Linked DNA regions of Homo sapiens: region 1 is linked to region 2. The links come from fine-mapping of genetic effects on gene expression. Tissue or cell type: whole blood. Region 2 holds a variant in brackets; the other region holds the start of a gene. All regions are shown on one strand. Distances are between the middles of the regions.

The links. PIP is the estimated chance that this variant, and not a neighbour inherited with it, causes the effect.
Region 1: MOB3B starts here. The variant in region 2 is fine-mapped to the expression of MOB3B in whole blood (TOPMed, PIP 0.92).

The regions. Positions count from the first base shown.
Region 1 is chr9:27,528,294-27,532,293 of GRCh38, forward strand. MOB3B (MOB kinase activator 3B) reads right to left here and starts at 1,521. Exons shown (of 4, transcript NM_024761.5): 1 at 1,262-1,521. It overlaps LOC124902107 (dapper homolog 3-like), which reads left to right and starts at 163. Exons shown (of 2, transcript XM_047424279.1): 1 at 163-433; 2 at 727-2,407. The coding sequence starts at 163. The coding sequence ends at 1,715. RefSeq lists silencers at 249-298, 1,269-1,568.
Region 2 is chr9:27,497,222-27,501,575 of GRCh38, forward strand. The region is part of intron 1 of MOB3B (MOB kinase activator 3B); the gene reads right to left. Among named protein-coding and RNA genes, the nearest start is that of IFNK, 25 kb to the right of the region's middle. The variant A/T (reference allele first, on the strand shown) is at 1,780.

The DNA of each region.
Region 1 (4,000 bases), 31 kb after region 2:
CCTAGCAGCGGCCCAGCCCCAACGCCTTTGGCTAGAGATTGAAATCCTCTGGAACCAACCACTGGACGCTCTGGATTGGGGCGGAACGCGCTTCCACTGTCTCGAAAGCAGCACCTTCTCGGATTTGAGCCTTTGCGGCGCGCCTGGGCTGAGATCTGAGAAATGCGCCCTGGGCCACAGGCAGCAGCGGAGGCGGGGAAGGAACAACTTTCCCTCCGCCCTCTAACCACAAGGGCGGGGTGGGGCGGCCTCGCTGGGGTCGGGCTCCTCCACTTTCCCAGCTGGGATCCCCTGCCGGAGCTGGCGTGGGGGCCGGGGAGGGGGACCAGAGGGGCTTCCTTCTCTCCCCAAGCCCCGCCAGATGTTGGAAAGGCAAACAATAGGGGAAACGCGGAGAAACAAAAGGCCATTCGCCACGATCTCAGTCGGCTGCGTAGAGAGATCTCTGTGGGGAGGGTTAGGGGAGAGGGTCAGGAAAGAGCGCGAGGGGGGGGATCCCGAGAGATTTAGAGTCTCTGGTACTTGCCAGGCACCAGGGGTCGGCGCTTTACCCTCCCAGCAGGGGTCTGAAGGTGGGAAGGGGCAATCAAAGAAAACTTGAAGGGTTTTCACCTTCTTCCCCAGTTCAGGGAAAGGGAGGGGCTGGGATTCCAGATGTTTGACAGTTGTTGGCCCCAAAGTTAAGCGCGATTTGTACGGCCTTTACACGCTCCCCACCTCCGTGAGGCATCGTCAGCCCCGGGGGCGACCTGGCTGACGGTGCGGACTTCCCCTACGCTGCCCCAAGCCGAGACTCCTCCCTCAGGATCAGGACGCCCAAGCGTTGTCCCCCAGCCCAGGCGCACTTTTGTAAAAGTTTGTCTTCCCGCCACCCACAGCCCAACACGCACCCTGCAGGCGTCCGCGGCTGGGGATGGGCTCGGAGTCTTGCACCCCGAAAGAAGGACGATCTTATTGATTTATATCTTTTCAAATCAAGGACAAATCAAGATCCCGGGGTGGAAAGTGGGCGACCCTTGTTCCTGCCGGGAAGTGCACACGAGGAGCCGGCCAGAAACCCAGGCGCCGGCAGGGGTCTGAAGAGGACTCCAGCCCCGGAAGCCCGTGGCCGGCGGGCAGAAGACCGGTCCGCCGCCTCCCGCACCTTCTTGCACCCGCGCCCAGGTGCGCCCCAAACCTCGCCGCCCGCCCGGGCGAGATCGGGAGCGAGCAGCCACCGGGCTGCGCCGCCTCCCCTAGCTTGGAGCGGGTTCTTACTCACCGTGGGGTTTTACCTCCAGCCCAGGGCCCGGTCGGCTCCCTTCGCCGGGTCAGCTGCAGCCAGCGCGAAAGAAAATGGTGAGCTCGGGGCAGGTGGGGCGTCGCTTGCCAATCCACGCAAGGGACTCTGCCGCCGGTGCGCGAGGTCCCGGCGAGCCAACCGGCGGACGGGCGAGCGCCTGGCTCCAGCTGCAGCCGCCGTCGCTCCGGAGCAGCCCCCTCATGCACCCAGCGCGCCGCGCAGCCGGCCGGGGCTCGACTGTCTCGCGGGGACGCCGAGCGGGGACCCCTGGCGGCCGCCTGCGGTATGGCAGCACCGTGGAGAGAAAAGTCGTCTTTGGGATCATCTTCCCTCCGGAAAGAGATGGGACATGACCAGTCTAAGGGGGCTTCCAGCCTTGCAGAAAAGACACTGGGCCAGGGCAGTGAAGAAGGTGTCAGATCAGAAAGGATGATCTCTGGGTCCACAACGGCCACTTCCAAGGCACCTAGAGAGGGGGAAACAGTTTGCCTTCCCCAGGATTTTCTGATTGTTGAAAAATACCATGAACTGCCTGACACAGAGCGGAGCATAAATCATTGGAAAATACTCAGATTCTAGTGGATTTACTAGAACACACTGGGAGTCATGGATGAACCTGGATTTTAAAGCTCAACCCACAGCCCGCCACTCTCTACTTGTGTGGTCTTGGTCTATCTACAACCTTAAAGCCTCAGTATTCTCCTCCGTAAATTGGCGGGGAGCAATATCACCCTTGCAGGGTGATGGTTACGGGTAAACTACATTTGAAACGTTTTTATAGTTTATAGTAACAGAAATCAAATATGAGCTTCCTGCCTTCTGGAGAAAAAGAATTGGATCTTTCACATTTTTCTATTACCCATATGATCACATCTTAATGCATATTGATTGAACTGTACCAAATGACGAAGTACTGCATTTTACCATTCTTACTACACACTTCAAAGAGGTGTGGAAATATATTAAGTAGAAATTAGGATATATAGAGAAAACATCCCTCCTCCAAAAGAGGTTTCTGCAACTAACTACGAAGTGAGAACTTCTAAAATCACTTACATCTTTTGCAATATCATCTCAGATATTGTAAGAAACATTTAATAAATAGTCATGACTTAATGATATCAACCCTGGATTAAATGACTCTAATTCTGTGTCACTTTTGTGTAATGTAAAGATACCGATTGTGAATATAAGACTCAAATATGGGAAAACTGCCAGATACAAAAATACAGCCGCTAAGCAATATTTCTGTTCATCACCGAGGAATCTCATTTCCAAAGTGCCCCAGTTTTTAAGAGGAAGAACACCAGAGTCAGACAGACCCATAGCAGCTGAGTCTAACCTTTCTGAAGCTCTGTTACCTCATCTTATAAAATGAGGATAATATAGGTAGCTGTCATTCAATGAAGGAATGCATACAACATGCTTAGCATAACACCTGTCACATGGTAAGTGCTCCAGGGTCACCACCTATCATTGTTTCCAGCATACAGTTATCACCCCACCGACATGTAGCCCCTCCCTCATGAGCTCAAGAGCCCCCAGCACGTGTTCTACTCACACACGCACAAGCTTCAGTGTCCCTTAAGATGTTATCTCCTGGAAAGTAGGAACAGAAAGAGAATATTTTCAGGTAGTTTGGAACAGAATGAATAACATTCACATTCCTTGCCCAAGTCAGTACAGATTAATTTCCATCATTTCCAACTCATACTTTATACATTTCCCATAAGAGGAAAATCATGCTGGTTTTCAGTAGCATATGAAAAAAAAAAAATTCCAAGAGGATTCTTTTGCCAAGCCACTTCATTACAGCTTCCCCTTAGAGGATACCAAAGAAGCACAGGGATATTGGAAAGGTGTCACCATAGCAACATTGTAATAGACAGATGACAATAGAGTAAAAGCGAAGAAAGCACATTTGCATAGTCATTGACAAACTTGGACCTACAGTCATATTGCTCTGGGCAGCAGTGCTCAGAGTCCAAGGGCTACTCAAAGTAAATTTGGTAAGAGGCTATTTCTATTCATTTTGGCTGAGTCTGACTACCCAGTTCATTGTGCTCATGTGTGTGCTAATTGTAATTGTTACAGGCAGTTCACTAACAAACAGCAGACATCCTCAAGAGTCCCTTTCATCCTAAGCAATGTGAGTTCACAAATCTAAATGTGTACCTAATAAATCTTCAATAGTAAAGCGTACTTCCTCCTTACCTGCTTCTGTTTTGTTTTCAAAACCTTAAATAGTCACAGGTATAGAGAAATTGTCTCAATGCTTATGGGAGCTTCTGTGATAACTTATGTTAATTAACTCTGGGTACTGAAAAGAAACAAACGTGCATGGCTTCCCCTAAGCACTGAGGTAATGGCAATTCAAATAACAGCAAATTTATATATGTGATATACACAGATTTATATATATATAAATATATCACATATAGATATATAAGAAGACATCATATATATATACACACACATTTTAGAGATCATATATATCTTTTAAGCAATTTCAAACCATACAAGAATCCATATATGATCTTAAGGCATAATTTCTGCCAGCATACTTCTCAACATTTATAATGACACTAAATGTCTATAGTCGTTTCCTCTGAAATGCACATTACATCAATCCCTTTTTGTGAAAGTGGAACTAAGGCATAAAAAGGTCAGAGTTCAGGAGCTGGGAAGAACATATGACAGTGTTCAAAGTTGTTTCAG
Region 2 (4,354 bases):
CTCACAAATCACTTCTGGGAAATTTTCCTAAGGAAAAAGCATAGATTTCCACAAAGCTTGGATGTGAAAGCTTGTGAATGTCTTTATCACAACATTGTTTAATATTTAAATTCAGAAAAACCTAACTTCCCAAAAATCATGGAGTATCCATACTATAGAATTCTATATAGACATATGAAAAGCTTTAATAAAATATTTAAGGATATTAAAATATTTATGATTTAGTATTATACAAATATAAGAAGACAATGAGAATAATTTCTAGAATTATCACAATTTCCTAAAAAATATATATACATATTTGACTGTAAAGAAATAAACTCAGAACTTACTAATAATTATGTCTAGTTTCAGGTGATTTTAATTTCTTTTCTGTACTTTCCTAAATTTTTGTAGTTTTATATGTTCTAAATTAAATATATATTACTTTGTAATTAAAATATAAAATGTTTTACTTATTCCTTTCTCTTAGCAATGTGAATATAGTCTTCCTACATGGGGAATTAATCACTAGATTAGTAGGAAATTAATGAAATTAACAATGGATGAACAAAAAGTTAACTTACCACATACATTTGGCTTTAACTTCTTGTATGTAAATAAATTCCTCCCAGTAGATTCTCTACCAACTACCTCCAGTTTCTATTAGCTGATCCTTGTTTAGAAGCAGTCCACTGATTTTTAGTAAATCAAAATGAAACTCCAAGAAAGACAAGAAGATGAAATGTGAAAAGGAAGCTGGCCTTGGTGCTATGCACAGTGATGGAAACCATGAATATGAATAGATGGAGCATTCGGATAGCAGGATAATAGAAGAGGGAAATGCATTCATTTGACAGCTGCCAACTCCCCCTCCCTGCACTGTCACTTCCCGGCTGCCCACCCCCTTCTCCAGGCCTTGATTCCCAGCCCACAGAAACGCCGTGGTGCGTGTAGCCTCTATGGTGTTCTCACACTCCAAAAGCGCAGAAAATAAAAGGCCACTATGTTGAAAGCTTGTGCCTCATAGAGTAACAACAGTGCTAAAAGTGCTTAAAAATACGTTACTACTTTTCATATCAATCACAGCGTTTTCCAAGCTACTCCCCAACCTACTGTGAGGTACAAGGGTGAGCATTGTTTAATTGGCTTTGGGAGTCGTATGAGCTGTGCGAGACCTTTAATTAGAGGAGCTGGTGGAATAAGCGTGTGATGTGTGTGTTAGGGAGGGGTGGGCTGGTTCTGCCATGGTCTTTGTAATCCCTTTGCAAATGCACCTTTGGACAAACTTAAAAGAAAGTAGAGGAAAGTTAGAAGAACTTGCTTCTTACTAAAAGAAGTTCAAGGTAGCAGTACCCTAGGTTTTGTTCATGTGCCTAATCTCTGAATTCAAATACCACTTAATAATGATGCTTAAACTGTTTATTCTCAATGTCAGAATGTTCTCATCTAGGTCAACAGAGAAAACCCTGATTTGTAGTACTGGGGTCTCATCCCAGAGACTGTTGGTGCTGAGGCACATGCACCATTGAAAGGGGAAAGTTATTCAGTACTAGCAGCAGTTGCTATGTAGAGATAAAGACCTGACATTGCTGGATCTTATGATTCTTTAAGCGTAATTGGAAATCTATTTTTTAGGTGAAATCTGTATTTTTATAGGTTGATAACTTAAAAGAAAAATCAACACTTTCTATGAGCAAACAAAACATCTCTGTGGGCCAAAATAGGCCTGTGGACCTCTGATTCAGGAAGAAGAGGATCTTAACACAAGATTTTTTAAGCACATTTTAAAGTGCACCA[A/T]ATTTATCTGTATATGCATAAATTATTATCCAATAAATTCAGTAGAAAAGAACCATGAATTTAAATTCTAAACCACCTGACCAATTTATCTGAATCAGCTCCTAAAATCATTTTGGGTCTATTTTCCTCCTTTAATTAAAATAAGAATAATCTACTAAAGTTTTACAATTTAAATATTGACAATTATATTTATTTTTGCATCTCAGAGCCACTGCTGATGTATTTCTTTTATGTATGAAGAGACTGAGGAACAAGGAAAAATCACAGAAAAGCCAGAGGATGAAGCTGGAATGCAAGAGTCCTGTCTCTTTATGATTCAACAATCAAATAAAAACCTTCTCTAAAAAATGACCAAGAAAGCAAGCTTATTAGGTTCATGAACAGAGTCATCACGTAAACAAATTACTTCTATAATAGTCCCAGTAAAATGATCTCAGGTTCTTATTTAAAACTCATGGAAAGGAAATATGTCAGGTTAAGACATCTTTATCTGTTTTTAACAACTGGAATATTAATCATATCTAATTCAATGTATATTTCAAAATGAGTAACTCACATATTCACAGCACTGTCCAAATTAATGAACAGGTCCCATTACCTAGGACTCATACTTTAACATTTACTAATTCGCTTTCCACACTGCCATTTCTCGTTAGAATGGCAACTTCTAGTTTGTGAAGGAAATGAGTCATTCCATGCAACTATCCCACCTTCTGAAGGACAAGTCACAGCAGGAAATGAATGGCTTTTGGTTTTTTTTTCTGCACTAGTACAGAAAAACAATGTATCTAATACTGAAGGATCTGAACTTTGGGACAATCACTTTTTCTAGATATTGTTTGCAACTTTCAGAACATTCTTATAAATTAATGTAAATTAGAATTATAATTTTGCCATTGTGTTATGTTGAAATGAAATCTACAGCTATCACTAAATGTTTATGAATTTTCCATCTACAATCAACCTTTCAATTAGTCTTATACAAAGTCGGTCTCAAGTTAGATTTCTGGTTTTTACATCTAACTTAAATGCATCTTGTGGTTAAATGCTGTGGAAGGTTTGACTAGACCTCAGAACTATCAATAACTTATAAATAATGGTTAAAAATCACCATTAAAGTGTGTATAGCAGAAACCTAGAACTGAAATTCACTTGAATTGAGTCTGGTTCACCTTATTTAGTTTCTTCCTTATTTAGTTTCAAATTCCCTGTGCTGGGTTGGGGGGTGGGGAGAACCCTGTGACTTATAGATATATAAAGTGTCTTGTGAGAAATGCAAAATTCCTTCGTAAAACTACCTTATCATGCTGTCCAAATTATAGAAAGCACAAACAAGTGTCCTCACTTAGACAAAAGGCTACAGTAACCAAAACAGCATAGTACTGATACCAAAACAGAGATATAGACCAATGGAACAGAACAGACGCCTCAGAAATAACACCACAAATCTACAACCATCTGATCTTTGACAAACCTGACAAAAACAAGAAATGGGGAAAGGATTACCTATTTAATAAATGGTACTGGGAAAACTCGCTAGCCGTATGTAGAAAGCTGAAACTGGATCCCTTCCTTACACCTTATACAAAAATTAATTCAAGATGGATTAAAGACTTAAACATTAGACCTAAAACCATAAAAACCCTAGAAGAAAACCTAGGCAATACCATTCGGGACATAGGCATGGGCAAGGACTTCATGACTAAAACACCAAAAGCAATGGCAACAAAAACCAAAACTGTCAAATGGGATCTAATTAAACTAAAGAGCTTCTGCACAGCAAAAGAAACTACCATCAGAGTGAACAGGCAACCTACAGAATGGGAGAAAATTTTTGCAATCTACCCATCTGACAAAGGGTTAATATTCAGAATCTACAAAGAACTTAAACAAATTTACAAGAAAAAAACAAACAACCCCATCAAAAAGTGGGCAAAGGATATGAACAGACACTTCTCAAAAGAAGACATTTATGCGACCAACAAACATATGAAAAAAAAACCTCATCATCACTGGTCATTAGAGAACTGCAAATCAAAACCACAATGAGATACCATCTCACACTAGTTAGAATGACGAACATTAAAAAGTCAGGAAACAACAGATGCTGGAGAGGATGTGGAGAAATAGGAATGCTATTACACTGTTGGTGGGAGTTTAAACTAGTTCAACAATTGTGGAAGACAGTGTGGTGATTCCTCAAGGATCTAGAGCTAGAAATACCATTTTACCCAGCGATCCCATTACTGGGTGTATACCCAAAGGATAATAAATCATGCTACTATAAAGACACATGCACACGTATGTTTATTGCGGCACTATTCACAATAACAAAGACTTGGAACCAACTCAAATGCCCATCAATGATAGACTGGATTAAGAAAATGTGGCACATACATACCATGGAATACTATGCAGCCAAAAAAAGGATGAGTTCATGTCCTTTGCAGGGACATGGAGGAAGCTGGCAACCATCATTCTGAGCAAACTACCACAAGGACAGAAAGCCAAACACTGCATGTTCTCACTCATAGATGGGAACTGAACAATGAAAACACTTGGACACAGGGAGAGG